Homo sapiens: one gene and its partners. The protein of the gene in region 1 purifies or fractionates together with the protein of each later gene. This does not show direct contact. Each region holds a gene or a part of one and is shown on either strand. Other genes may lie near its edges. The genes, in order: FLVCR1, MANEA, PTPN2, POMK, LNPEP, PICALM and ACSL4.

Region 1 (4,288 bases):
TCCACAACCCCTGTTCCCACTTGCAGCAGGGGATTCTTAAAAGTTATATGCCTTATCTCAATCCCACAAAGCCAGGCCAGGTGCTGACAGCTTCCTGTTTGTTTCCCCTGGGGTGGTGTCCTGAAGTACTCAAGTTTGTGTACCTTGCTTCAATTCCACAATCAAGCCATCTGTCTCTATATTTGATGCTTGCAGTTGCCATCCAATGTGGCATGCTTGGGAAGCCAGCCTCAGGGAGATGGGGGTGAGGTGCACAGAGAATTTGGGGTGGCCATGGGTCATGTGGGAGGTCCATATGCAAGGTATCCCAGTGGCTGGTGAGGCTTCCTGATGGAGTCTGTGGAGTGCTGAGTAGGTTTCAGAGCCTTTCTTCCCTGCTCCCAGCCTTTCCCAACGCTTAGCTATGACAGTCACCTCAATATTTTAATTGGAGCAAGAAAGAGGTAGGGTTCTTAGGCAGCATCCCACACAGCTAGGGGCTGAGCACTCTCACTATGCTATCACCTTCTCCCATGGGAGAAATTGTGGACTGAGGGGAGTCTCTCTTGCCACTAAGCTGTGCCAACTTCAAAGAGTGATGCAGATAAAGTGAAAATCTTCTTCTTCCTTTTCTTTAATGCATTTATTCTCAGATATTTCTGCTCCAATGGTGTGCTGGAACTTCCACGTAGGACTTCTGGATTCCTACAAAAGAACTACCATCTGAAAGTACTGGTAAAAATCAATGCTTCTGTGGAAGAATGATGATATAAAGCTCCTATTCTGCCATCTTGCTAACATCACTCTCTAAAGTTACTTTTAAAGGAATAAAATATTTTAGTATCTATTTTAGCCCTGACCCTGGTAGACTTTGTTTCCTCATTTTATGTTCCATGCACTACCTCATTCCCTCTTTGCCCATTCTGAAATTTTATAATCCCTTTAAACTCCCCATGTGTACCTAAGCATCAGAATTTTTCAAAAAGTCACAGAAAATTAACATAAAAAAATAAATTTATTTTGAGTCTGAAATACTGAAGAACAAGCATACAGATAAATAGTACAAAGAACAAAAATTAGAACATGAGTAATGACTTAAGACACAGGCATTTTTCTAGCTATTGCATACAGACACATTTTTACACACAAACATATTTTTTAAAGACATCTCTCCAACATTCTCAAAAGGCAAGAGCTGTATTTGTGACATTTGTAATAAATGCAACAGCTTTTGAAACATCCAGTTTCTTTCCTAAGTCATTTGATTAAAATTCACACAAGTGATGATTACCTATTCCATTTTCTGAAAATACGACATACAGTCATGTTTCGATCAACAATTGACCACATATGACAGAGATCCTATAAGATTATAATGGAACTGAAAAATTCCTATCACCTAGTGATGCCACAGCCATTGTTACATTGTAGCACAATGTATTATCTGTTCTATGTTTAGATTACACAGATACCATTGTGTTACAGTTGCCTACAGTATTCAATACAGTACCATGCTGTACAGGTCTGTAGCCCAGAAGCGACAGACTTTGCCATCTAGCCCAGGTGTGCAGTAGGCTCTACCACCTAGGTTTGTGTAAGTACACTTCATGATGTTCACACAATGATGAAATCACCTAATGACAAATTTCTCAGAATGTAGCTCTGTCATGAAGTCACACATTACTGTAGAATTATAACATTCTTGCTTGACATATTACAGACAACTTTCACTCAAAATACAGAAAAATTATCAATTCATTTTGCATTGTCACATATTCCATCACCTTTCTAATCAACAAGGAAAAATAAACATAACATATATGTATATGCTTTTCAGAAATAAAGTATTCTAAATTTTATGTGTAATTTGTTCCAAACCTCAGGAACTCAACAAGTACATGATTATTTTAAACAACATTGATAGTTTAAAAATAAAAACATTTGGGGAGAGACCTTAAAATATATTTTTGGCCGTTTTTACCTGTAATGTAAATATCAAAGGAAGCTAATGATTGGACATACTCTGCTTGAGTTACCCTCAACTGACTAAAAAGGCTAAAAAGAAATGTAAAAGTCCGTTGTATCCATAAGGTAGCAATCACATTTGTTTATCCAATTGTCCAGGGAATTTTTCTCTGGCTGGATTCAAGTTCCTGTGATACAATAATTTGGTCTATTCCATGATTAATGGCATTTAATATTTTGGAAAGATCTTTGAGATCAAATTGAACACATTCATTTCATGGATGAGGAAAACGCTGCCCAGAGAGGTTTAATGATTTGTCCAGAGTTATAGGAACATACAGAAATACATCCAGGACATGGACACAGAGTTCCTGATTCTTAGTCAAATTCTTTAGATAACACATTCCCCAGGGTCAGATTCGACATAATTTACAGTCACTTGATTATAGAGAATGTTATAATTTCAATATATATCAATGCATATATTCTGCCTGATATAGTTGGGATACTTGTCCCTCCAATCTCACATTGAAATGTAATCCCCAATGTTGAAGGTTGGCCCTAATAGAAGGTGTTTGGGTCCTGCGGGTGGATCCCTCATGGCTTGGTGCTGTCCTTGCAGTAATGAGTGAGTTTTCACAAAATCTGGTTGTTTGAAGGTGTGTGGCACCTCCCTGCTCTCTTGCTCCTGCTTCGCCATGTGACATCTCTGCTCCCACTTAGCCTTTCACCATGAGTAAAGCTCCCTGAGGGCTCCCCAGAAGCCGAGCAGACACTGGTGCCATGCTTACACAGCCTGCAGAACTGTGAGCCACTTAAACCTCTTTTATTTATAAATTACCCAGTCTCAGGTATTTCTGTTCTTTTTTTCCTGAAACAGAGTCTCGCTCTGTCACCCAGGCTGGAGTGCAGTGGCGCAATCTCAGCTCACTGTAGCCTCCGCCTTCCAGGTTCAGGCAATTCTCATGCCTCAGCTTCCCAAGAAGCTGGGACTACAGGCGTGTGCCACCATGCCCGGCTAATTTGTGTGTGTGTGTGTGTGTGTATGTATTTTTAGTAGAGATGGGGTTTTGCCATGTTGGCCAGACTGGTCTTCAACTCCTGGCCTCAAATGATCCACCCACCTCAGCCTCCCAAAGTGCTGGGACTATAGGTGTGAGCCATCGTGCTCAACCTCAGGTTTTATTTATTTATTTATTTATTTATTTATTTATTTATTTATTTATTTGAGACAGTCTCACTTTATCTCCCAGGCTGGAGTGCAGTAGTGTGATTTTCGCTCACTGCAACCTCTGCCATTCGCATTCAAGCGATTCTCCTGCCTCAGCCTCCTGAGTAGCTGGGATTACAGGCGCCTGCCACTGCGCTAATTTTTGTATTTTTAGTAGAGATGGGGTTTCACCATCTTGGCCAGGCTGGTTTTGAACTCCTGACTTTGTGATCCACCTGCCTTGGCCTCCCAAAGTGCTGAGATTACAGGCATGAGCCACAGCACTGCGCCTGGCCTTTTTTTTTTTTTTTTTTTTTTTTTTTTTTTTTAGTAGAGATGGGGTTTTACCATGTTGGCCAGGCTGGTCTTGAACTCCTGACCTCAGGTGATCCACACGCTTCAGCCTCCCAAAGTGCTGGGATTACAGGCGTGAGCCACCACGCCCAGCCTAAATATTTCTTTATAGCAATGCAAGGATGGCCTAACACACTGCCTAAATCAAAATTGCTATTCACTTCAAGGGTATTCATTACCTGACTAGCTTTTTTGGGTGCATATGAACATAATGTAAATTTTATGGCTGATCAAATGTCATTACTATGAAGATACTCCCTATGAGCTCACAGAGTCAGGACATCAACAATATTTAAACTCTCACTGTAAACATGACACAGTGGTAGGCACTGTGGAAATATATTTGGTCCTATTTTCCCTACCTGAGCATGTAAAAGAGCAGACTATTCTAACAGTGTGATGACTCTGCAGTGAAGAAAAGAATCCACTCTCCCGGCACACTGATAGAGCATGTACCTGGGCATAGTATTCCTCAAAGGAGAATGGTCATAAAAATGATACTGCAGAATTCAAATAGCATTCAAGAGGTCTCCACTAAATGGGGACATGTAGGCTATCTGAAGTTATTATAGATTTCCTTATTTCAGGAATCTTCAAGGCAAAATATACGATGTGATACATGAAATCATGAAATAGCCAGTAACATACATGATGAAATTATCTTACTAGAAAGTTACACATCAGGAAAAAAAAAAAAAGAGAGTTTAAAAGAAAAAAAAGGCAATGGGTACAAAACTACTCTATCTCAAGTTGGAGTGAAAAAATACAGCGTTAGCATTT
Region 2 (4,199 bases), on another chromosome or scaffold:
CTATTATCAGTAAAATTCTTTCAAAAAATGAAAACTGTATTAATAAATTCTTTTTGATCAGGCTAGATATAAATGAAAATATCAGCTCTGGGTCTACTGTGTTAAAAGAAGTAGTTCACTTTTAATAATCTGAACCTTCTTTTTAAAAAGATAAAGCTATATTCTGAAGGTTTAGAAAATAATGTCATTTTAAAATATCAAAACTACAGAAATCATAAATAGCCTATAAACCTGTAAAACAGTAAAAACAGCAATCTTCCAAAAAGAAAGTGAATTATAAGAAACTTCAGCAATGTTCTTCGAAATGATGGTGACATTCATTACAATAACAATTTAATTTTATTAAAAATGGAATAATCATAAATCATTCAAATCTCAAATATAATTTAATGTACTATTCTTAAAACAATAATTATCACTGGATAATATAACAATATTTATAAATATTGAAGAAACTCACTTGTCTATAATATACTTGACATTTTTGTACATGTTTTGATCATCTCGATTGCTATATGGTTCTATGTGAAAAGTAACCTAAAACAAACAATAAAATCAGTTAGGGGATAAATTATCTATAATGTAAAATTAGAAGTATACTTAATATATTTAATAAAGTAACTGATTTAATCACCTTAATTAAAGATGAATATTTATTGAACACAGAAACTACCAGAGAATTTTTACCAATAAAATTTACTGCTAAATAACATGCTAAACATTTTATATTATTATCTTGGTTAATCTTCACAACTCCCTAAGGTATTTCTGTTTTCTTAGTGAGGTAATCAAAGATAGACAGAACCTTAAGAAAGGTTCAGTAAGTTGTTCCAGGTCACCCAGTTTGTTGGAGGTAATATTGATGATCTGAATTCCGAGTTCAAATGCTTAACTGCTGTGCAATGCTTCTTTTTATGTTTACTCCTTATAAAAATGTTTCTTACATATTTGTATCCCATATAATATATATAGGAAATACTCTATATTCAGATATATGTTTCTTTTAGGAAAAAGACCAAAAAAATATGGTCCAGAAAAATCTGGATTTTTTTCAGGCATGTGACCATTAAGCTTAAATTTAAATAGAAGTCATTAGCAAATTTATTTACATATAAATTCTTCCATATCATTAAAACAGCATTTTACAAAATAATATACATTAACTTCTATTAAAGAATTTATAATGAAATCGCTTAAAAATAATATCCACTAGTGTTATAAAGGACATTTTTCATGATGCCTAGGTATTTATGGTTTGGATATCCCATACACACACACACACACACACACACACACACACACCTACATACATATATACGCACACATACATACATTATATATATATATGTAAACATAGAGAGCAGTAATTACAAATATTTTTAAAATACTGTGCACAGACTAAAATTTTTTAACTTAAGGTTGGCTATACATAAATCAAGACAAACTAATTATGGCTAGTAAAACCATTCTGTATGCTACTTCTAACTAGTAAGGTAAAAAATACAGAAGATACTTCTCTTAGATGACAATCTATTTCAGATTCATAAAACAAAGAATGAGGATTTTCACTTTTATTCCTAGTTTTACTGACTTACCAACATCAACTAAAAATCTTTATGGCAGTCTAATAAATGTATTGATACTGTTTTAATTTTAGGTTTCAGGCTCTATGATGTATTTATGGAACTAGAGACTTCTATTGCAATATGAAACTCCTCTGTTTTCAATTACCCAATTAAAGCAAAATGTATTTTACATTAATCAGTGCTACTTGTTTTCACATAATTAATTTTAAAGTTAAATAATATTTAAAAAAAATATAATTTTCTACTTTAAATGAGATTACAGTAATATTATAAAAGTAAGTTTCTGTCATAAAAAACTAAGGTCAAATTAATTTTTGCAGCATATTGTTAGTATTGCCAGGGTAGTAACTGCTAGGGCAGCTAGATTTCTCAATAACTTTGGTATTTGCTTTTTAAATTCAGTTGAAAGCAAATTGCCTAGTGTATAGGTATTTTCATACTATTACATAATGTTTCCTTGGGTAATTCTTCCTTCAGTTACATCACTGTGTTTTCTAAATTTCCATTTTATACATAAAGGACACCATATTTAAGCAATATCCAACTTGAAATATCCTATATCAAAATGAATTTGCTTTTACAGCTGCAAACAACAAATAGCATGCTATTTTTGTAAAGCGCAGATCAATATATTTAAAGTAAATATAGTATTGATAAGTATAAAATATTTAAAATTTTCCCTCATGTATTTCTAATTTCTTAATTATAATAAAATTACTTTGCAATTTTTTTTTTTTTTTTTTTTTTTTTTGAGACGGAGTCTCGCTCTGTCGCCCAGGCCGGACTGCGGACTGCAGTGGCGCAATCTCGGCTCACTGCAAGCTCCGCTTCCCGGGTTCACGCCATTCTCCTGCCTCAGCCTCCCGAGTAGCTGGGACTACAGGCGCCCGCCACCGCGCCCGGCTAATTTTTTGTATTTTTAGTAGAGACGGGGTTTCACCTTGTTAGCCAGGATGGTCTCGATCTCCTGACCTCATGATCCACCCGCCTCGGCCTCCCAAAGTGCTGGGATTACAGGCGTGAGCCACCGCGCCCGGCCATTACTTTGCAATTTTAATTAATGATGTGATCTAGTCTCCATCTCTCTATTCCATTTGGAAAAATCAATTAGATCAATGTTAAAATAAATTTTAAAATAACAGAATTCTATACATAAAATGAAATGTCTTTCTTATCTTTAAAGAATAAGAATATAAACATTCCCTCATTTCATGTTTTTAATTTTGACCTTTCCTGTCTCTTCCCTACCCTGCATTTTAATAACTTTAATAAATAAATTTTAATAAAATGAACTTTTTTGAATGAAAATCTGATAACTTTCTCCTTCTCCAACTCTATTCTCTACCTTCACCCCTGCACACTCCCCTATCCCCTGCCACAACAAAATTGAGGTAGGTCTTCCTACTCCTATGTGGTGCCATAATACCTCATACTTTTCTCTTCCTGAAATTTACTTGTCTTTGTGTCTGACCTCCAGTAGATTACAAGGCATTTTAGGGAAAGAGATAATACTTCATCCTTCTTCTTAATATTGTCAGCATCTGGGACTGTATCTGACACGTAGCAGGTGCTAAATGAATGAATGCATGCATAAATAAATGGACTAATGATTTGCATGCAAAAACAAACAACAGTTAAACTCTTAAGTCTGTCACTTATACTGGATTTAGGTAAGATTCCCAAAGTTTCTGCCATGAATTCACAATATTCATTTAACAAGGAAAAAGAAAAAGGAGAGGCCATGACTAATATAACATGTTTCAAATGTAGGTGAAAATCATTTAAAAAAGAATCACGGACATACTTATATTCATGTTTCACATGGTTGAAATCTGCATAAGCCTGAAAAGCAGATAAAATGACTCTAGAGCCATATGCAAAGAAATAATGGATGTTGATAAACCTAGTATAAGAAATGTGATTTCTGCATAAAGTAGAAAGAAAATATGCTACTTTAAAATAACATACTAAATTTATTAAAATGAAAGAAGATCACCAGGGCTGAGTTGGTTCTTTCCCCTATAATCCTAAGCAAAAAAAAAAAAAAAAAAAAAAAAAAAATCACTGAATCTGCCTAATTTTCTTTTACTTAGATGAATGATTTAATTCAGTCAAGTTTTGATTAGATAATGCCATGTAACAACCCCACAATCTCAGTGGCTCTAAAAGACAAACATTTGCTTTTCGAACATAAAATCTATGAACTGGCTTATGATGGTTCTGCTCCAGGCTGGTTCAAATCAGCTCCACGTGTCTGTCATTCTGAGTCCTAGGCAGAAAGGGGCATGCTTTTCTTATAAAAGAGAATAAGAGCATAATCATGCAAGCACATAGTATACATTATCTCTTCTCACATCTCATCAGCCAAAGCAAGCCATAAGGCCAAACCCAACAACAACAGGGCAGGAAGTATACTTACTCTTTGCATGCAGGGGAAGGAAAACCAGATTATTTGCTAAACAATGACGGAATCTACCAAATATTTCTGTCATGTCTTACTCAAAAAATTGTTCCGTTGCTGTGTTCTTAATGGTGCAGGATATAGAGGAAGGAATCCAGCCCTGATTTTTACACTCTCTGCAAAACCAGCCTACTAAATGACAGTTATAAGTG
Region 3 (4,199 bases), on another chromosome or scaffold:
AACTAGTAGGCAAGGGAAGTGTTTTAGAATAAGACAGCTTTGATTCACCTGCCTAACTGGCTGCCCCGCTGTAAGTATGAGAAGAACAGTGTGCACTTGATATCTGACTTCTAAAAATTAGCTGACTCACAAATGGTAAAAATTGTTCTCTAGCAATATTTGAACTACAAATTTCTAATAAAGAAAAATGGCGGCCAGGCGCAGTGGCTCATGCCTATAATCCCAGCACTTTGGGAGGCCGAGGCAGGTGGATCACAAAGTCAGGAGATCAAGACCATCCTGGCTAACACGGTCAAACCCCGTCTCTACTAAAAATACAAAAAATTAGCCTGGCGTGGTGGCGGGCGCCTGTAGTGTTGGCGGGCGCCTGTAGTCCCAGCTACTCAGAAGGCTGAGGCAGGAGAATGGCGTGAACCTGGGAGGCAGAGCTTGCAGCGAGCCGAGATGACGCCACTGCACTCCAGCCTGGGCAACAGAGCAAGACTGTCTCAAAAAAAGAAAAAGAAAAAAGAAAAATGGCCAGGCACAGTGGCTCATGCTTGTAATCCTAAGCCTTTGGAAGGCTGAGGTGGACAGATTGCTTGAACTCAGGAGTTGAAGACCAGCCTGGGCAAAATAGTTAAACCCTGTCTCTACAAAAAATACAAAAAAATTAGCCAGGCCCAGCTACGTGGGGGACTGAGGCAGGAGGATGTCTAAAGCCCAAGAGGTCGAGACTGCAGTGAGCTGAGATCACGCCACTGCACTCCAGACTGGGTGACAAAGTGAGACCCAGTCTCAAAAAGAAAAGAAAGAAAAAGAAAAAAAAAGAAAGAAAAAGGAAAAAAAGAAAGAAAAAGAAAAATGTGGCTGGGCGTGGTGGCTCACACCTGTAATCCCAGCAGCACTTTGGGAGGCCGAGGCAGGTGGATCACCTGAGGTCAGGAGTTCAAGACCAGCCTGACAAACATGGTGAAACCCCGTTTCTACTAAAAATACAAAAATTAGCTGGGCGTGCTGGTGGGCACCTGTAATCCCAGCTACTCGGGAGGCTGAGGCAGTAGAACTGCTTGAACCTGGGGGGAGCAGAGGTTGCAGTGAGCTGAGATCACACTACTGCACTCCAGCCTGGGGGACAGAGCAAGACTTGGTTTCAAAAAAAGAAAAATGAAGTCAGTCAGGAGTTCCATTGTTTATAAACCCTAATTAATCAACCAATTTCCAAGAGGCTGAGGTGAGAGGCTCACCTGAGCCCAGGAGTTTAAGGTTGCAGTGAGCTATGATTGCACCACTGCACTTGTACTCCAGACTGGGCAACAGAGTGAGAACTCTTTAAAAAAGAAAGGAATTTAAAAATAAATAAGCCAAATTCCTTCTGAGCCATCACTTCTTAGAAACAACCCATAACATAGCTTTTGCGATTCCCCAGTTTTAGTCTTTTCCTCAGTAGGCACACAGACTCCATTCCTTCTCTCTGCCTTTCTCAAAGCTCAGCCTGATGAAGACAGCAATCAGCAGTGACAAAAGGAAAAGCCAAAAAGGGATCATGAACATTACTCAAAAAGTCAGAATTAACCTCACACAATCAGACCAAATTAAACTTTTCCAACTGCACCCTTTGTTTTGCTGTTCTTGTTTTAGAGACAGGATCTCACTCTGTCACCTAGTCTGTAGTGCAGTGGCACAATTATGGCTCACTGCAGCCCTAACCTCCTGACCTCAAGTGATCCTCCCACCTCAGCCTCCCAAAGCGCTGGGATTACAGGGATGAGCCACCGCCTGGCCAGCACTCTTTCACGATCAATTCTTCCACCTGTGTGCTCTTGGTCCCATTGACTCTTGCTTTCTAAGATTTCTGGCTCCAACAATCATCCCTTCTATTTCAACCTCCACCTCTCTCTTTAGGTTCATCCCTGCAATCACATAAATATATCAAGTTGCCCTTTCCTCGTAAAAAGTCATTCATTCAGCACATATTTTCAAGTGCTTACTAAGCACCTGATACTGTGCAAAGCACTGGCAGTGCCTTCATGAAACTCTGAAGAAGTAATAAAAAATATAAACTCAGATTAACAGAGTCTGTTCTGCTCCAACCCAATAATTCATTTCTAAGAAACCTCCTATTATCAAACTCATGAAATAAAAGACACTTTTCAAAAGGAGCAAAAAGGAATAAGGGACCAGAGTTCCAGACTCAAAATACTAAATTCATTTTTCCCGCTAGAATTTCAACAAGGTATCAAGTTCTCCTACCACTAAGCAAGTCCAGCTTTTAGTTGTACTCAGTTTTTGCTCAAGAGCAAAGCCTTTCTTTTCCCAGCTCCATGAGCATTACCAAAAAAAGCACAACTCTTCAAAAACATTATCAGAAACATCACCCACTGCTGTGCTAAACAAAGCAGAAAGCCACCTTAAACACTTTTTTCCTACTCAAGCTGTGTTACTTTCAAGATAGTGGTTTGCTTAATGCAAATTGTGTTCCCGAAATCATTTGCTGCTGTATGACATCCAATTCCCGCTATGAAAGGGGAAGTCTTGGGATGCTAAAGAAGTACGCAACAGGGGCTCATACCCAGCATGGGCAGGTCAAGAAGGCCTGCCAAGGAAGTGAGACTTCAGGGATGAGTAGGAGGCAGTTTAAGCAAGAAAGGAAAGAGAAGGGGGGAAAGTTGTGCCAAGGCAAAGAGAACAACATTTACAAACGCCCTAAGGGGAGAATGGACACACACACTTCCAAGAATACAACACAGTGGAAAAGAGGGAGGAAAGTGATAGGGGAAATCAAGCAAGAGACACAGGCCATGAGGTCTTGTGAGCCGGAGGAGGGGCTGAATTTACACTGTGAGCAACGGAAAGCCGTTCAAGGGTTTAAGTGAGAAGTCACACAATCTTGCTTCATTTTAGCTACCTCTCCCCACTTCTTCAAGTTGGGCTTCTAAAAAGAGCAGTGTACACTTGGTAGTTTGCATTTCCTCCTACCTTCTCTCCTGAACTCCAGGTATCTGTCTTGTGTAGTCCGCTGACACAACTCCCTTTAAGGTATCTGTTAATCTAGCTGCTCAATGTCATGGCCCTCTCAGGCTGGCCCTTACCTGTCAGGTGGCCCTGCTCACCCTCAACTCCCTCCACTGCTTTCCTCCCCACTTCTGTGGTTGTTCCTCACCAGTCTTTTTTGCAAGTTCCTCTTTCTCCACCCATCCTTTTAAATGTTGTCTGTCAAGATTCTGTCCTTGGCCTTTGATATTTCCAAACGCTCTGTATCTTCCCTAGATGATCTCATCAATGTCTAAGACCTCAAATATCACCCATGTGTTCATGATTTCCAAAATCACATTTACTCAGACCCTCTCTCCCGAACTCCAAATTTATACATTCAACTAGCTTCATTTCAGTGTCTCGCAGGTACCTCAAACAGAATTAAAGTTTCAAAACCAAACTTGTACATAACGTATACCCCTTTACCATTTCATTTCAAATCTGTATCTCCCCTCCATCCCTCCTGCCACTGCCTAACAGAAGCTCATCATGTCTCTTCAGGTTTACTCCAACCGACTACTGCCCTGTGCTGCGTGCCTACACTTTCCTCATCCAGTCTGCTAGCAGTCAGAACGATCTTGCTAACAAGTAAATATGATCAGCCCAGAGCAGTGGCTCATGCCTGTAATCCCAGCACTTTGAGAGGCCGAGGCAGGCGGATCACCTGAGGTCAGGAGTTCGAGACCAGCCTGGCCAACATGTCGAAACCCTGTCTCTACTAAAAGTACAAAAAAATCAACCGGGCATGGTGGTGTGTGCCTGTAATTTCAACTACGCAGGAGGCTGAGGTAAGTGAATCACTTGAACCCAGGAGGCAGAGGTTGCAGTGAGCTGACGTCGCACCACTGCACTCCAGCCTGGGCGACAGAGCGGGACTCTGTCAAAAAAAAAAGAAGCAAATATGATCATGGTATTTCCAGACTTACAATTCCACAATGAGTTCCTATTAAACAGCTCAAATTCCTTAGTCTGATCTAGGCTCTGCCTTACTCTCCAGCATCTCAACTTCACACCAGTCTCCAGGCTAAACTGTGGGTGGTTCTCTCAGCATTCCCTCAGTGCCTTTGTGCACTCCCTCCTTGCTGGAACAGTAATTCTCTTCACCTCCCTTGTCCTCTTCCCCTGGCCAATGTCTTTCAAGACTTAGGTGAGGTCCTCCCTCCCTCGAGAAGCTTCACCAGAAC
Region 4 (3,909 bases), on another chromosome or scaffold:
TTTATCAAGAGACTCTAACATCTAAATCTAAGGCAATAATCGGAAATAGGTAAGAAGCTCCAGGAATAAAAATCTGACATTATTTATAAAAGCATACACTGAAACTTATCAAAAGATGGGAGCAGCATGATCAACATAGTGAGAACCCATCTCTACAAAACATTTTTTAGAAACTAGCAGGGTGGGCCAGGCGTGGTGGCTCACACCTGTAATTCCAACACTTTGGGAGGCCAAGGCGGGTGGATCACCTGAGGTCAGGAATTCAAGACCAGCCTGACCAACATGGAGAAACCCTGACTCTACTAAAAATACAAAATTAGCCAGGCGTGGTGGTGCATGCCTGTAATCCCAGCTACCTGGGAGGCTGAGGCAGGAGAATCACTTGAACCCGGGAGGCAGAGGTTGCCGTAAGCCAAGATCACGCCACTGTGCTCCAGCCTGGGCAACAAGAGTGAAACTCTGTCTCAAAAAAAAAAAAAAAGAAAGAAATTAAGAAACAAGCAGGGTGTAATGGAGCGTACATGTACCCCCAGCTACTCAGGGGAGGCTGAGGTGGGAGGATCATTCAATATATATATATATCATGCGGTCACCAAAATGTATATATTTATACAGTTATAACAGATAAAAGTAATGGTACGGCTGGGTGCGGTGGCTCATACCTATAATCCCAGCACTTTTGGAAGCCAAGGCAGGCAGATCACCTGAGGTCAGGAGTTGGAGACCAGCCTAGCCAACATGACGAAACCTAAAACCTAAAACCTCTACTAAAAATACAAAATTAGCCGGGCATGGTGGTGCATGCCTGTAATCCCAGCTACTCAGGAGGCTGAGGCAGAAGAGTAGCTTGAACCCCAGGAGGTGGAGGTTGCAGAGAGCCAAGATCACACCATTGCACTCCAGCCTGGGTGAACAAGAGTGAAACTCCATCTCAAAAAAAAAAAAAGCAATGTTACAAATGAGAAGTATACAAAACCATTTGTATAATATTGTTCCAACTGCATAAAACGAGACAAATTTAAATTACAGCACATGGAAATCAAAGGAAATATGCTAATGCCTTAGTTGTCTTTATGTGGTAAGATTCTGGGTGATTTTTTTTTCCTTCATATCTTTTGGTATTTTCCAAGATGAACATATATTACTTTTACAACTTAAATTTTTTAACTCAAAAATATATAAAATTTCAGAAAAACTAACATTGGGAATTTAAAAAAAAAAAAAGAAAAAGAAATATTATATAAAATGGAGTTAGACCCAAGGACCATGAAGATCTTTTCTGGATCTAAGAAGGGAGGTTCATTATGGAAAAACCCAGATAACTTTGATTGGCTCATAACATTCAAATGAAAACTCTTTCAAGACTCTCTAATCCTCATATTTGAGAAATTTCACTAAGGATAATAACTTCTATTAAAAAGCTGTTTTTGGGCCGGACGCGGTGGCTCACGCCTGTAATCCCAGCACTTTGGGAGCCGAGGCAAGAGGATCACAAGGTCAGGAGATCGAGACCAGCCTGGCAACATGGTGAAACCCCATCTCTACTAAAAATACAAAATAATTAGCTGGGCGTGGTGGCGCGCGCCTGCAGTCCCAGCTACTCAGGAGGCTGAGGCAGGAGAATTGCTTGAACCCAGGAGGCAGAGGCTGAAGTGAGCCAAGATCACACCACTGCACACCAGCCTGGTTAGAGACTTCGTCTCAAAAAAAAAAAAAAAAAAAAAAAAGCTGTTTTTCACTCTGGCTGCTACATGCACTAAAAATTTCCTAATTTTTAAGGACTAGATAAGACCACATTCTAAAAGTTCAAGATTTTTTTAAATTTTCATATTGAACACACGCTCTCCATAGATTTGCATCCCACTGAATCTGATAATTGGCTCTAATACGAACAACTGAGGTTTTGTTCAGATCCATGGCTTCCTTACGCCCACCTCTGCATGGTCACCACCAGAACTGGCAATGGCTTTGGTTTTCTAGGCCCATTTTTCACCTAAAAACGATGCTGGCTTTTGGGAAGCTGCTGCTACACATTCAACAATAAGTGGGGGGCCGGCCGCAGTGGCTCATGCCTGTAATCCCAGCACTTCAAGAGGCCGAGGCGGGTGGATCACGAGGTCAGGAGATCAAGACCATCCTGGCTAACATGGTGAAATCCCATCTCTACTAAAAATACAAAAAATTAGCCGGGCATGGTGGCAGGTGCCTGTAGTCCCAGCTACTCAGGAGGCTGAGGCAGGAGAATGGCAGAATGGCATGAACCGTGGAGGCGGAGCTTGCAGTTAGCCGAGATCAGGCCACTGCACTCCAGCCTGGGCAACAGAGCGAGACTCCGTAACAACAACAACAAAAAAAACAGTAAGTTGGGGAGGCTCAGCCACAGGCCCCAGGGCTCCTGATCCCTCATTTGTGTCTCATTCATTTTTGTTTCAGATAAATGAAGATTATTAAATATTATTATGAAATACTATTAGTCTTTGAGATCACACACAAATATTTGAATCCTCCAATATAAAAAATTTGCTAGTCATGGACTGTTTAAGAATCATTTCTCACAACCTCTAATTTAGTTGCTTTTAATCATTTTCTAAAAGACTTTTATTTGGAAAGAACAGTTAAAATACTTTACTTTTTTATTATAAAATTAATCGTGAACACTTTTCTTGGTAAAAACTCAAATACAGAGGATAGGCAGGATGTCTCCCTGCCCCCAGTTTTACTTCCCGACCCAAAGGAAACCTGGTAACTGGCTGTCATCCTCCCAGAAGTTTTTCTATGCCTTTATTTATTAATGTACACTTGTAAAACAGCATTTGGGTTTGCTGTTATACTAATGGCGTTATAACATACATACATTGCAGCTCTTTTTTCATTTAACTGAGCCTCAGAAATCCTTTCCATATATACATGTAGATCTAGGCCATTCTTTTTAAAGCTGAGTAATGTTTCATAGTGTGGGCATAATACCTACACTTGTGTATTTCCAGTAAGCTTTTACAGATACTACTACCTTTTTTCTTTAAAATTAAAGTATAATATAATAAAAATACCAGGAATTTGGAATTGATGCTGTCAAAATAGACTGGATTCTTTCTTAAGATTATTATGTAGCTATAATTTTGTAAAGACCTTTAATAAGATCTTATATGATCTATTTCTAAAGACCTGGACATTTAAGTTAGTCCCTTTTCTAATGACAATGCTACAGTGTATAGCCTTATATTTACATGTCTATGTACATGCACAAATATTTTATAAGCTAGGTAGGCAGACAGAATTTACCAAATATCTATTGCCATCATTACCCTCCAAAGTCTGTGCTAGCATGCACTTTCACCAGCAGCGCATGATAGAATCTTAGGAATACACCCTTAGTCACACCAGATTATTACCACTGTTTGTAATTTGTGCCAATCAATGGATGAAAATACCTTACTCTTCTAATTTGTATTTCCCTGATTACTAATAAGGCTAGGCATTTGTCATCTTTTTAGGCATTTCTGTATTTCTGCTGTCAAAAGTCTGTTCACTGTCCTTTATCCAATTTTCTATAGGGTTGTCTGCCTTGTGCTTATTAATTACTGGGAGCTCTTTATATATACTTGACCCTTGAACAACACGGGTTTGAACTGCGCAGTTCCACTTACACACAGATTTTCTTCTGCCTTTACCACCCCTTGGATACCAAGACCAACCTCTTCCTTTCCTCCTCCTCCTCAGCCCACTCACTGTGAAAAAACCAAGGATAAAGACGTTTGCGATGGATGATGGATCCACTTCCACTTAAAGAACAGTAAATGTATTTAATTAACAGTAAATGTATTTTTTCTTATGATTTTTCTTAATAACATTTCTCTCGTCAGGCTTCTGAGCCCAAGCCAAGCCATCGCATCCCCTGTGACTTGCACA
Region 5 (4,199 bases), on another chromosome or scaffold:
AAAATAAAAGTATCAGTAAAATGAATCCCCCAAGTGATAGTATATCTTGATTCCAGGTAAATGTTTAGATTATTTATACCTTTCAAGATGTCTGAAAACTATAATTCAAAGCCATTTTTTTGTCTTTCTCTCTTTTAATTTTGCTTAGTTCTATTAGAGAAGCTTTTATAAATTTTTCTTCTCTGAGGTATGATTAGAATACATATTTATACTGGTAGATAAAGTAATTAAGGGATGTATTTCTTGTTTTTACACATAGCTTACATTTCCTGGGGATAATAGGCATTATAGAAGGAGAACTAAAGGCAAGAACTTTCAAGTTCCCATTGCAATTATACATTTGTGTTCAATCCCAGATCTCACGCAAGAATTGAAATGCAGGGCCAGTATGCCATTTATTTTAAAAGTATTACATAGAGGGAAAATAAAATAAAAATTATTTATCTGAATAGAATTATGGATCTTGCTTGGTCTCTTTCTCCATTTAAGAAGGATCAAAAAGTTTCCTTTAGATGTAGAATACTCATTTCTAACTATTTCTCTTAATATGTCAACATACATTAGCCAAATGGTCAGCATCAGTAATTCACATATTGTTTTACAGAGTAATATGAGAGAATGTTCCAATTGCATAAAGCAGATGTCGTGAGGATTTTGTGCACAAGACAACTGATATCACTGCTACTTAAGAATAACCTCCATACTGTGTGAACTCCATCTTCCCAGAATTTCAAACTACATGCTATGAATGCTAAGATTAAAGTACTAAATATATAGTCCAAATAGGGAGCTGAATAATTTTATATTTTGTCTCACCTTTTTTTCTGAACCAAATTAAGTCTCTCCTAGACCTTAAAAAAAATTTACACCAGAAATCCAAAATAGACTGGCATTTTAAAAAATAATAAACCAGTAAAGATTAAGGATATTAAAAATGATATATGTAAGCACACCACACTTCACACTTCTTCATGCCCTCTTTCTGTATTTCACTAAGTACCTCCTAAAAGTTCTGCACATTAGGAAAATAGGTCTTAAAGAATAACTCCTCTTTACTCTGCTTCCCAACAGACTTCATGAGGTGACAGAAAACTAGATTCACCTTAAAAATGTGAAAAACTCAAGATAACAAGTTTTGGATATAATCTTTATCCATCCTTTTCCACCAGCACACCCCTATCTCCACCCCACCATGATATATGCTCAAGGCGTTGACTAAGAGAGATAATATATTGTTCTAAATCACCATTCTACTATTTTGTATATAACTTCCTAAATTAAAAAAAAAAATCACAATTCGTGTCTCTGGTGTGGACAAAGGGATCTATATTGCAGAAGTTATCAGAGCGTAAAACCAGAATCATTTAAGAGGGCTACCTACTTTTTCTCATTACTTTCATCTGTGTAGGAGAAGCCATAAAACCCATAATAAGAACTAGATATATTTGCCGAGTACTCTATCTTCAACGTATAATTGTGCCCTGCTAGAAGGGCTTCGGGGGCAACAATGGCGATCTGTCCATGATATGCATATTCCAGGATCTCAGCTTGTTTTTCTTGGCTTGAAACTGCTGACATAAAGGTCACTCTTGAAATATTATGACCTGTGCTATGAAGAATGATATTCCATGTGACCTGAAGAGCCTGAACTGAAATTGTCACAGAACCCCTGAATGTCATCGAGGTTAGGTTCGGGTGTAGGCTGAGTTCATAGCGTAGTGGCACAACGGCAGTGGGAAGCCTGATCTGTGCCCATGGAAACAATTTCCCATTTGTTGCAAATGGCTGAATTAGTCCAATTGACTGGTTTTTTTTATGGCAGCCTTCTTTGGTAAAGGTACATCTGGGCAGTAAGTAAATCACCATGATTACAGAAACAGCAACCACGATGACAAAAGCACAGACCACCATGGTCCTTGCAGAGGGTACTGAACAAGCCCCATCTGGGCTCTGCCTGTAACCAGTTGCACTGTTCCGAAGGCCTGAGCTTCTATTCATGAAGGACATGCCCAGCAGCTTTGCTGATGACTCATAATCCTCTTCATCCTCCTCCATCTCATGCTCACCAAGACCCCGCACCAGCAGTCGGGAACCCCGGGGCTCATATTCCACCTCATCAGGCTCTAGAGGATGTAAACAAGGCTCTTTGGCTAAATCCACCACATCTGGTTCTTCCTCAAACATGCTGTTTTCAATCATATTCCTGGGGAGCTGAAGCCGATCTAAAAAACCAAAACATAAGAACAAGGCACAGAGTTAGAAAAAAAAAAGCTCATAATATTAATAACATGTCTTCTACCTAGACCACATTTAAACTAAGAATTTTTTTAAGTCACTAAGACTTATTTCCATCTCAGAGCTACTGAATTAAATAAGATGTTTATACCATTGAGTCATCCATTAAAAACTAAAACATAAATAAAAGTATACCACAGTTATGAAACAAGAAAGCTAAATAAACAGGCTATTATATTTTTAAAAAGTTAGCTGAGATAATATACTAATTTCCTTAATATACTCCTGCCCCACAACCTGGGACCCTGCCCTGGGCTTGAGAGGGCACTGTTTTGGCATTCCTCTGACTATGTCTGTCCCCACCAGGCGAGGAGTCAGTAGGATCAAAGGGATGTGCCCACCTACAGTCCACGGTTCCCCTTCTAGGGTTTGGGCACTGCAATCCCAGAATTTCTGTCCAACAGGCCTCAAATCTGCTTCCAAGGTATTTGTGGGTCTCATCCCTGAGTCTCATTCTCTCTAGGGAGCACCACAAGCTGGTATGCCCATTTCTAAGATTGAGTATGGCTAAGCAACAGGATGGGTTATTGTTTTCCCCTGAAAGAGGAATGTTTCTGTCCCACAGCAAATGGGAAGCAGCAAATTATATGGGAAATTTCCATAAGCAAGAAATGATTTTTAAAAAGATCAAAAGACAATAAAAGTCAGATAAAATTATAATTCAATCTGTTTTTCATGCTTCCATGGCTTTCAGAAGTACAACATATTTCCATGGGAAACAACCATACTGCACACCATGAGTGTTAGTGGATCTCAGTGGGAGCTTTTACAAACTACAACAAACCACACCTTCCGATTTGCCAAAATCACTGAGAAAAAAGACTCTAGAAGTAGAAGGGTCGATAATCCCCCATATATCAGTACTTCCTAGGATTAGATCGTTCAATGTTTTTTATTTAAAATTCATACAATTTTAGTTTTTAAGGGATCTCAAAAGTTATCAAATTGAAACCTCCACTAATCTTCCCTACAAGGGAAGATACTTTATACCTATCATTTCTAACCCTTACAACAATCCTATAAAATGGCAAGTATTCTATTTTAGACATGAGAAAATAGAAAAAGAGAAATAGATTAATTCGTCTTCATAAAGTCACACAGCTATTTAGTCATAAAACTGATATTAAAGCACAGGTCTAAAAATTTGATTCAAAAGTTTATGCTCTTTTCATTATATTGCATCCCTCTACTCAAACTAATTCAATAAAAGATGAGAGCCCTGAATTATTTATTTCATACCTGGCAATGAAGTTGCTAAGAGTATTATTTCACCATCAGGAGAGCAAAGCTTACAAAAAACTACTGAATATCTAGCTTAAGATAAATGCTATGTATTTTGTGCTATTCAACAAACACTGTAATGGTGGAAACTCTTCATCCATAAAACATATTATTGATAAATATTAGGATAAAATTTGCAGTTTTGCTGTTCAGTGTGGCCTGTGACCCTGCAGCATTTGCATCACATTGCAGCTTGTTAGAAACGCAGCCTCTGAAGTCTCCACCTAGAATACGAATTTTAACAAATCCTCGGGTGCTCACGTGCACTTAAGTTTGAGAGGCACTGGTATAAGCATCTTCCATGGTCAGATCCCAGCCAGCACTAAATACCATTCCTGAGTATGCTCTGGCCATCCCAAACTGCTTACTATTTTGAGCACAGGCCAGGCAGCTATTCCACGCTATCCTCCACATGTCTCTTTTTCTTTTCTCTTCCCTCTGCTTGCAGTGTCATCATCTCCCTTTCCCATGCCCATCCACCTGGTATTCCGTACCTCAGCTTAACTTGCTACAACACAAATTAAGAAAAGTTATGTTTTTTTGTTTTTCCTTTGTCTTTATTACCTTTAAAAAATAAACTTTCTTTTCATTTCACTTCACCCATTTCTGCTTTGGGGAGCATA
Region 6 (4,199 bases), on another chromosome or scaffold:
GTGCTATCAAACACTAGAACTTATTCCTTCTAACTGTATTTTTATAAAAAAGTTTTGAAGACATGTCTTTTAGATGTACAATAGTTGTGTAGATAGTAGATATAAACGCATTTAGTGCTTTGGGGAACATATAGAATATACAATAATAATTCTGTAAATGGGCTGTAAGATTTGCCCTTAATTACTATTAAAAAGGTGAAAATTTTTAGTATGTGACATAAAACATAGTGAAATTAGTTCTTTATCCAATAATTTGTTTCAGCCTCGAACAATGAACATTCTTTTCACTTCTTTCTCCTAGGACAGACTTCTTTTCAAGATCTCCATGTTGAGAACTTGCCCCTTAATGGGGTCAATGTTACTTAACTGGGGATTAAAGAAGGTAGCATACATGAGCAAACAAATCATAAAGCTGAAAGAAAAAAAAGAACTAAATTCAACAAACACCTACTAAGATTTCAGGGAGCAGGTAGCAACTGAGCATGCATACAGCAAGCAGTTCACGTAGTAAAACTTACACTGAGCTATTAGGCTCAGCTATTAGGAGTCAGTAGGCAGGCAGATGAGCTTTTAAGGGTGAGTTAATAAACAGCAACAACAAAGTGAAAGGAAAAAACTCACCACTCTCTATGGAACATTTAACATGTGCTAATAATGCACTGTGCTAAAACCTAGTCACCTGGGAGCATCTTAAAAACAAAAATTCTTGGGCCCCAGGCCCCACCTACTGAATCAAAACTCTAGGATTGGGACTCAGATATCTGTAGTTTAATAAACTCTCCAAATGCTTCTGATGTTAAAGTTGAGAACCACAGTCTCATCTGAAAACAAGGTTTCTCAAAAAAAGTTAAGAACTAACAGAGCCAGGATTCAAACCAGAATCTGACTTTTAAAACTACTTTAAGCCACTCTGAGGTTCAGAAAATGCCAATTGTTTTACTTTACCTGGCAATATTATATTTCCATGTTAAGTAGCTTAAATTAGACAACAAGATTATTAAAGTTAGTCTGGTAGGCTTCAATACCAAGAAACCTGGCAACTAAACTCTGTCACTGTGTTCCAGATTACAGAGTTTAAAACCAGGAAACAGATATGACAGACGTTTAATATCTAATGAAATGGTATTTTGAAATATATATCATATCCATATGTCAAAGAGCTATAAAGGGTCTTGAACCATTAGATGCCTCATAAATGTGTTTAATCATAATTTTTACACAATGAAAAGTTGGCCCAGAGATAACAGCTATATTCCTATTAGTATAAATCAGTGATTTAACTATCTTCCATTTCGTAAATACGTAAAATATAAACTCATCACTTTATCTTTAGGTATTATACCAATATCACCATTTATCGCCACCTCTTTGTGTGAATAGATTATAAAAGCATAAATAAAAGTAAACCTGAAAAGTTCTGCAAAATTTCTATTAGAAGTCTTTGAACCTACATATTCAAAGGTAACCTTAACTTCTACTCCTACCTGTTAGAAGAACTAGGGGTAGAAAATATGTCAATGGCTGGTGCAGTCATTATCCCTCCTGCTGAGGTGGATACAGGAGAGGCTGCAGTTGTTAAAGAGGTATGAGGTTTCTTTGCAAGTTCTTTTAGGCGCTGTTCCTGTTAAGAAAGGGAACTACCATAAGGATTCCAGAAACCAGATTTCTTTGTACAGCCTCTGAAAAAAGCATTTTCTAATTTGTTCTGATAGCAGATATTCTGTTTTACCTAATTCTATGTCAGGACGAAAAGTTAGACTGAGTTTCAGCCCATTAGGTAGCTATACATTTAAGACTCTAAGTCTGTGCAGAGGCCCCATTTACCTAATGAACACCTGTACTCATTTTTCGAAATAAGGAGAATGCACAAACTTACCTTTAAAGCTTTCAAACGTGCCTGTTCTTCCTCTAATGCTGCCTGCTTTTCCCTTTCATCCACTTTGGTCAGAGATAGACCAGTGCTTGCCAGGGAAGACACTGCATTGGAAAGTGTAGTTGCCCTAGGATAATTGAACAGAGATAATTTGGCTTTTTGCTAAACACTTCACATTACACCCAGGTCATGAAATGGTCTGGCAACCTTGCCATGGATAGGCACTATAATTATAAACTTAACTTCTGGATTCAAATCCAGTACTTCAGATGAAATATTCTACCTAGTGATCTACAGGATTAAAGCAATTAGAAAAATCTTGACTTAATATACACTCACTGCTTTCAGAGTAAGTGTTTGACTTTGGAAAGGGTTCACAACAGAGTGGGGCACATTGCCTCTTCCAAGCCCCAAGAGAGGAAACCAGTGCAATTGGGAAAGAGCCCACATAATCCCACAAAATCCCTGATGGGAAAAAGTGTTGAGTTTATCACAGGGAAAACCCTCTGCTAATTTACAGCCTACGTTTCGGCAGTGCCACAGGAACACCAAAACATGCATACCAGTAACACGTAACGTAAGTCTAGGTATGTTTCACCTATAACAACATCCCCAGAGGACTTCAGGTTCCTTCAAAAGAAGACTGGTTTCAATCTAGTCATCAGGCCATTTGGCATCTTTCTATGTGCTGCCCTTTTGCCAAACCAGAATTTCCTTTTTAATATACATGTACAATGTATCATTTTTCACTGGCAAGGCACCTCCTTTCCCTTTTATCAAAAACGTATCCACACTATAAACCTCAACATTAACTTTCCAAATGTTAACTCTAGGCTAAGTAAAACAAGTGGTAAAGAATTCTAACCTGAAGAACTACCTTGAGCTTTATTAATTTTCCTTTTACCACACACCAAACATCATTAGTTTCTACTCTTAAGCACGTAAAGTGGTAAAAACTACCTTTTAAATTTTATGTAATATTAGTATTATAAATAAGCCAATAAAAAGGTACAATTCAGAAGACAAAGGAAGAATAACATAGTTGTGACAGAAATGCAAGAAAACCAATAAATTTTATGATAAACATTTCAGGTAAATTGGTGCACCTGAACTACGTGGCTCTTTTTTTCGTTATTCTCTCAAATAAATGAGACTTATTGTTTTGACTGCTACTTCGAAAATCTTACTAGAAAATTCAAAGTACAAATCTAGGATTAAAAATGAGTACTAAAATCCAATAACGGCATTTCCCTTTGGAAATTATTTAAATTTTATTACTAAAAGAAAGATCAAAAGTTCTGAAACAACCAGAAAGTCTAAAAAGAACCAAAGGAAGGTTCTCACTATACAAATTCTTTCTTCATGCTGTTTTAAAAAAAGGTTCATAAGAAAACATGAGAATAACTCAAGTAATTTCTTAACCCAATACAAAAATCATGTTACCAGACTGATATGAAATGATTTCTGTTACTTTCAATTTGCTAGGTTAAATGGTCTTAGTCTGAGGAATTAGCTTAAAACATAATAAAGTGATTAAAATATAAAATATCAATAATCAACCCCATGAACTGGCATTAGGCAGAGATGATGCAATTTGATGTCAGATATTCTAGGTTTGAGTCCCAGCATTGCTACTACATACTTCACAGGGCTATTGTGAGGATTGAGCAAATTAATACGAAAGTATCTTGCAATTATAGGCCTGGCACGGTGGTTCATGCCTGTAATCCCAGCACTTTGGGAGGCTGAGGTGTGCAGATCACTTGAGTTCAGGGGTTCGAGACCAGCCTGCTCAACATGGTGAAACCCTGTCTCTACTAAAAATACAAAAATTAGCCGGCCGTGGTGGCATGCATCTGTAGTCCCACCCTTGGGAGGCTGAGGTGGGAGAATCGCTTGAACCCAGGAGGTGGAAGTTGCAAGTGAGTTGAGATTGTGCCACTGCACTCCAGCCTGGGCAATAGAGTGAGACTCTGCCTCGGGGGAAGAAAAAAAAAATGTATCTTATAACTACAAAGCACCACATAAAACAATGCATTAGCATCTTTAGGAGAAATTTTGACATCATAAACACAATTCTAAACTATGCAGTCACTGTCATTATCTTAACAGATGCTGACATTTATTGAAGGTCAGAAACAATTTCAAGAATTTGCATGTATTAATCCATTTAATCCTAATACTAATTCTATGAGGCTGATATTATGATTAAATCCATTTTATAGAAAATGAAATCAAGATATAGAGAAATTAAACAGCTTGGAACTTGAGCTGGTTTCATCTACTGCCTCAGAAAAATCACTCTGGCTTTTTGGCCTACAAAGAA
Region 7 (4,199 bases), on another chromosome or scaffold:
AAAGCAGAAGAGGGCTCAGCTGTGTTAAAGGCTGCCAGTGGGTCAAGGAAGAAGAGAACTGAGCTTTAATTGACCTTTGGATCTAATAGCATGGAAGTCATTGGAGACCCTGATGAGGAGAACAAGTTTATAGAGTGGTAGGAGACATAAGCCTGATTGTAGTGGGTTCAAGAGAAAATAGGAGAGAACTGGGAGACAGAGAGCCATAGACACCTCTTTCAAGGAGTGCCAAAGAGATAGAAAATAAATGGGCTATAGCTGAAAAGAAGATGCAAAGGAGGGAATGTTTTTTAAGATGAAAGAAATAACAGCTGGTTATGATGCTGAAGGGAATAGTTCAGAAGAGCAGGGAAAATTAATGAGGAAGGACGAGAGGGAAGAATTGGTAGAGTAGCACTTCCGTGTCCTTATAAAGACAGGGTGTAATGCATAAATGAAGGGGTTGGCCTCAGCTTGGAGCATCAACAGTTCATCCATAGTCACAGGAGAGAAAACAGCATGTGGCCACAGATTTGATTAGGTGGGTAGATGTAGCAGTGAGAGTCTGTGGAAATTATCTTTGGATTGTTGCTGTTTTGTCTGCAAAATAGGTCAGCTGCTGAGAATAAGTCTGGATGAGGAATGTTGGTGGTCTGAAGAGAGTAAAGTATGAAATCCAGAGGAGTGGGCCAGTGAGTGGACTAGTGCGGTGTGGTCTCTCTGCATCAGGGAGAGTCCATTTGAGGTAGCAATCACAAGTTTAAAGTGAGACACTCAACACAGTCATGTGTTTCTCACAGCAAATTCAGCTGCATAGGTACAGGTACAGATTAGGTGGAGAATTGGATAGGATAGAACCAGGCTGTGGTTGAGATGATTAAGTACAACCAAGTGAGACAACCAAGAGGGACTGAGTATGATTGCCTATGGAATTTAAGAGGAAGAAGACAAAGGTTTCTCACAAAAGCACTATAAAGTAGGTAATATAAGCAGTATTCCTGTTTTACAGATGAAGCCACTAATATAGAGCTTTCTTTTTTAAATCATACTTTAAATTCTGGGATACATGTGCAGAACGTGCAGGTTTGTTACATAGGTATACACGTGCCATGGTGGTTTGCTGCACCCATCAACCCATCATCTACGTTAGGTATTTCTCCTAATGCTATCCCTCCCCTAGCCCTCCATCCCCTGACAGGCCCCTGTGTGTGATGTAACCCTCCCTGTGTCCATGTTTTCTCATTGTTCAACTTCCACTTGTGAGTAAGAACATGCAGTGTTAAGTTTTCTGTTCCTGTGTTAGTTTGCTGAGAATGATGGTTTCCAGCTTCATCCATCTCCATGCAAAGGACATGAACTCATTGTTTTTTATGGCTGCATAGAACCACATTTTAAACCCAGATCTGTTAGCCTAGAAAATTTTTGTTGTTTCTCTTATGAGACATTATATTTTGCCTAATGATGGGTACGATGCTCAGCATCATACCCTTACCACCAACTCTTCTTTTTTTGAAGTGAAATGAAATGTTTAAATCTTTTTTGAAATGAATTTATCAATAGACTGAGTATAACCCCTGACAAGGAAGTATTATAGTTTAAGATGATAGGCAAAACTGGGCAGAGGCTGGCTAGTGTACTTGAAAGAGCACTGGGTGCTCGATTTGTGCTCTGCCATTCATTTGCTTCTCTGTAAGATGAGGGCTCAGACAATATCAGTGGTTCAAATATTCAGCTGAACTGGAAGTTCCAAGGAGTCCCTTCAGGGGCTGTCATAGCCTCCTCTACCAGAGCAGCTATGCTTTTTGCTTTCATCTACGCTTGTGTTTTTATATCTATATAAGATTTTATTCAAATGGATGACCCATGACCCCCTCACTACCTGCAGAAAGAATTTGAAAACCTCTAGACTAAATGATCTCTCTGGTTTCTTCTCACCTGAATGTTCTTTGAGCCTTGCCTACTGTGTGTGTGTGTGTGTGTGTGTGTGTGTGCATGCGTGTGTGTGTGTCTGTACTAAGCACTATGAGGATTACCTAGAAAGCATTTCTCTTTCTCTAAGACTTAAGGCAAATATGTATAAAAGATTAAATTTATGTAACATCAATAACTAAAAAACATACAATGCATTTTAAATCCAACTAAAGTACAGGCTCTTCAAAAGCTATTTTCTGTTTCTTTATATATTTTCAGCCTTAAGCCTGAAGATTTCTCAATTGAGGGTAAGGTGGTACTCACCCCTTAGGGGCATTTTATAAATCTGAAGACATGCTTTTATGTCTGCTAATATTGTCTCTGAGAATGTATGTATTGAAACAAGTATTTTGTTAAATTTTAAATTAGTTTCTTTATGGTACTCTTTTATATTACCAGTAAGAAATCATTTTTTAAAATGGTGTGTTGGTAGATTATGACTATCCTTTGATGTTGATGAAGAGGTATCACAAAATATTTGTCATAAGAAAGAGGTACTGGGTTTGATATGGTTGAGAACTACTGGTCCGTGTTCTATACTGTGGTACCCAGAAGTTTGGAAGTGATGGTAGTATAATCATGTATCAGATTGAGTGGTAGATATTGCTAATGATGTGTGAAATTAGAAAAAGTAAAGATTGTTCTGGACTTGGGTAGCCATGAAATCTTCAGTGGGAGGAGAGGATTGTTAGAGGGGATCTTACATTCAGCATTATGATAAACCCTTGACATGACATACCTTATCTTGAAGAAATGAATGACCAGACTTGTCCGAGAGACTAAGAAGGTACTTTCCAAGTAGGGTAAGTCATAGAATTTAAAGCTGGAAAGGCCCTAAGAATCACCTAGGCCAGACATTTTTAGTTCAGGGTTGTTGCCCTTTGAAGTTCATGGATGGATTTCAAGGAACTTGTGAATCACTTGACATTGTGTGTATCATTTAGCATGTCTTTCTGAGGGGAATTGGGTTCCTCGTTCTCATTCTCAAAAAGGCCCATCATCTCTAAGAGGTTAAGGCCTGCTGATCTAGTGTGGTCCCAGACTGAGGTAGATGGTTTGCTCAAGGTTACACAGCCAGTTAGGGGCAGAGATGAGGATTGACACCCAGTGACTTCCAGTTTCTTTCTCATTTCACTGTACTCAACTAAATTACATGAACAAAGGCACAGGCAGGATTAAGCTACCATTTTATATTAGATGGTATAAAAACAATCAACTAGCCTGGGGTCAATTGAATTAAGTCTGTCAGTCTGTTTCTACAAAAGTTGCAGAAGGATGGGCTTCAGTTTGTCTCTTCAAAGTGAACTAATATTTTGATTTTTCTGGTTGAAATATGCTACAACTCACCGAAGTAGCTTTCTCAGTTGAAGGTAAGCTCCTTAAAAAATGTTCCTATTCTTGGGCCGGGTGTGGTGGCCCCCGCCTGTAATCCCAGCACTTTGGGAGGCCATTGAGGGCAGATAGCTTGAGTCCAGGATTTTGAGAACAGCCTGAGCAACAATGGCAAAACCCCGTCTCTACAAAAAATGGAAAAAAACTAGCCAGGCATGGTGATGCACATCTGTGTTCCCAGCTACTCGGGAGGCTGAGGTGGGAGGATCTTTTGAGTCCGGGAGGCAGAGGTTGCAGTGAGCTGAGATCATGCCACTGCACTCTGGCCCGTGTGACAAAGTGAGACCTTGTCTCAAAAAAAAAAAAAAAAAAAAAAGAAAGAAAAGAAATATTACTATTCTTGAGCCTGTTTCTGCGGTTTCTTTCCAATGGCACTGTTTTTCTAACCTGCAGCAGCCCCCAGCTTTCCACATAATCCAATCAAAATTACTTTGCCTGATTTGTTAGATTTTGTAACTACCGTAGCGTATTTAGTCAAGCGTATTTAGCGTATTTAGTGTATGCTGTGCCCCAGTCAGACTAGTGTCCTTGCTATTGGTACTTCCTATTCTCCCAAAGTCCTTTCATTCCCACCTTCGTATCTTTTTTCATATGGTCCCTGAGCCTGGAATACCTTCCATTCCTCTTTCATTTCTAGATGCCCAACATAAGGTCCAGCTTAAATCTAATCTCCACAAAGCCTCTCCTAGTTACTCTTGGCCATTTTGCACTTCCTCTGAACTCCTTTTGCATTTATTGCTTATACTACTGCCTACACTGCACATGGTAGTTATGTATTAGTTATGTATTACCACAAGGCTTTTCAGTGGAAATGCTTTAGTGGTCACCTTGGGAGTTGGGATTCCGGGAATTCTGGG

The links.
Region 2: the proteins of FLVCR1 (region 1) and MANEA purify together in Homo sapiens (affinity purification with mass spectrometry; one large-scale study listed by BioGRID and IntAct). This does not show direct contact.
Region 3: the proteins of FLVCR1 (region 1) and PTPN2 purify together in Homo sapiens (affinity purification with mass spectrometry; one large-scale study listed by BioGRID and IntAct). This does not show direct contact.
Region 4: the proteins of FLVCR1 (region 1) and POMK purify together in Homo sapiens (affinity purification with mass spectrometry; one large-scale study listed by BioGRID and IntAct). This does not show direct contact.
Region 5: the proteins of FLVCR1 (region 1) and LNPEP purify together in Homo sapiens (affinity purification with mass spectrometry; one large-scale study listed by BioGRID and IntAct). This does not show direct contact.
Region 6: the proteins of FLVCR1 (region 1) and PICALM fractionate together in Homo sapiens (co-fractionation; one large-scale study listed by BioGRID). This does not show direct contact.
Region 7: the proteins of FLVCR1 (region 1) and ACSL4 purify together in Homo sapiens (affinity purification with mass spectrometry; one large-scale study listed by BioGRID and IntAct). This does not show direct contact.

Annotation. Positions count from the first base shown.
Region 1 is NC_000001.11:212,896,051-212,900,338, reverse strand, and holds the end of FLVCR1 (choline/ethanolamine transporter FLVCR1), read right to left. Parts: 3' UTR 976-4,288; downstream 1-975.
Region 2 is NC_000006.12:95,601,165-95,605,363, reverse strand, and holds part of MANEA (glycoprotein endo-alpha-1,2-mannosidase), read right to left. Parts: intron 538-4,199; coding exon 461-537; intron 1-460.
Region 3 is NC_000018.10:12,877,538-12,881,736, forward strand, and holds part of PTPN2 (tyrosine-protein phosphatase non-receptor type 2), read right to left. Parts: intron 1-4,199. UniProt on the Homo sapiens protein: Non-receptor type tyrosine-specific phosphatase that dephosphorylates receptor protein tyrosine kinases including INSR, EGFR, CSF1R, PDGFR.
Region 4 is NC_000008.11:43,117,252-43,121,160, reverse strand, and holds part of POMK (protein O-mannose kinase), read right to left. Parts: intron 1-3,909. UniProt on the Homo sapiens protein: Protein O-mannose kinase that specifically mediates phosphorylation at the 6-position of an O-mannose of the trisaccharide (N-acetylgalactosamine (GalNAc)-beta-1,3-N-acetylglucosamine (GlcNAc)-beta-1,4-mannose) to generate phosphorylated O-mannosyl trisaccharide (N-acetylgalactosamine-beta-1,3-N-acetylglucosamine-beta-1,4-(phosphate-6-)mannose).
Region 5 is NC_000005.10:96,977,161-96,981,359, reverse strand, and holds part of LNPEP (leucyl-cystinyl aminopeptidase), read right to left. Parts: intron 2,223-4,199; coding exon 1,382-2,222; intron 1-1,381. UniProt on the Homo sapiens protein: Release of an N-terminal amino acid, cleaves before cysteine, leucine as well as other amino acids. Degrades peptide hormones such as oxytocin, vasopressin and angiotensin III, and plays a role in maintaining homeostasis during pregnancy.
Region 6 is NC_000011.10:85,999,159-86,003,357, forward strand, and holds part of PICALM (phosphatidylinositol-binding clathrin assembly protein), read right to left. Parts: intron 2,001-4,199; coding exon 1,877-2,000; intron 1,622-1,876; coding exon 1,485-1,621; intron 1-1,484. UniProt on the Homo sapiens protein: Cytoplasmic adapter protein that plays a critical role in clathrin-mediated endocytosis which is important in processes such as internalization of cell receptors, synaptic transmission or removal of apoptotic cells.
Region 7 is NC_000023.11:109,684,548-109,688,746, reverse strand, and holds part of ACSL4 (long-chain-fatty-acid--CoA ligase 4), read left to right. Parts: intron 1-3,302; exon of another isoform or gene 3,303-3,320; intron 3,321-4,199. UniProt on the Homo sapiens protein: Catalyzes the conversion of long-chain fatty acids to their active form acyl-CoA for both synthesis of cellular lipids, and degradation via beta-oxidation. Preferentially activates arachidonate and eicosapentaenoate as substrates.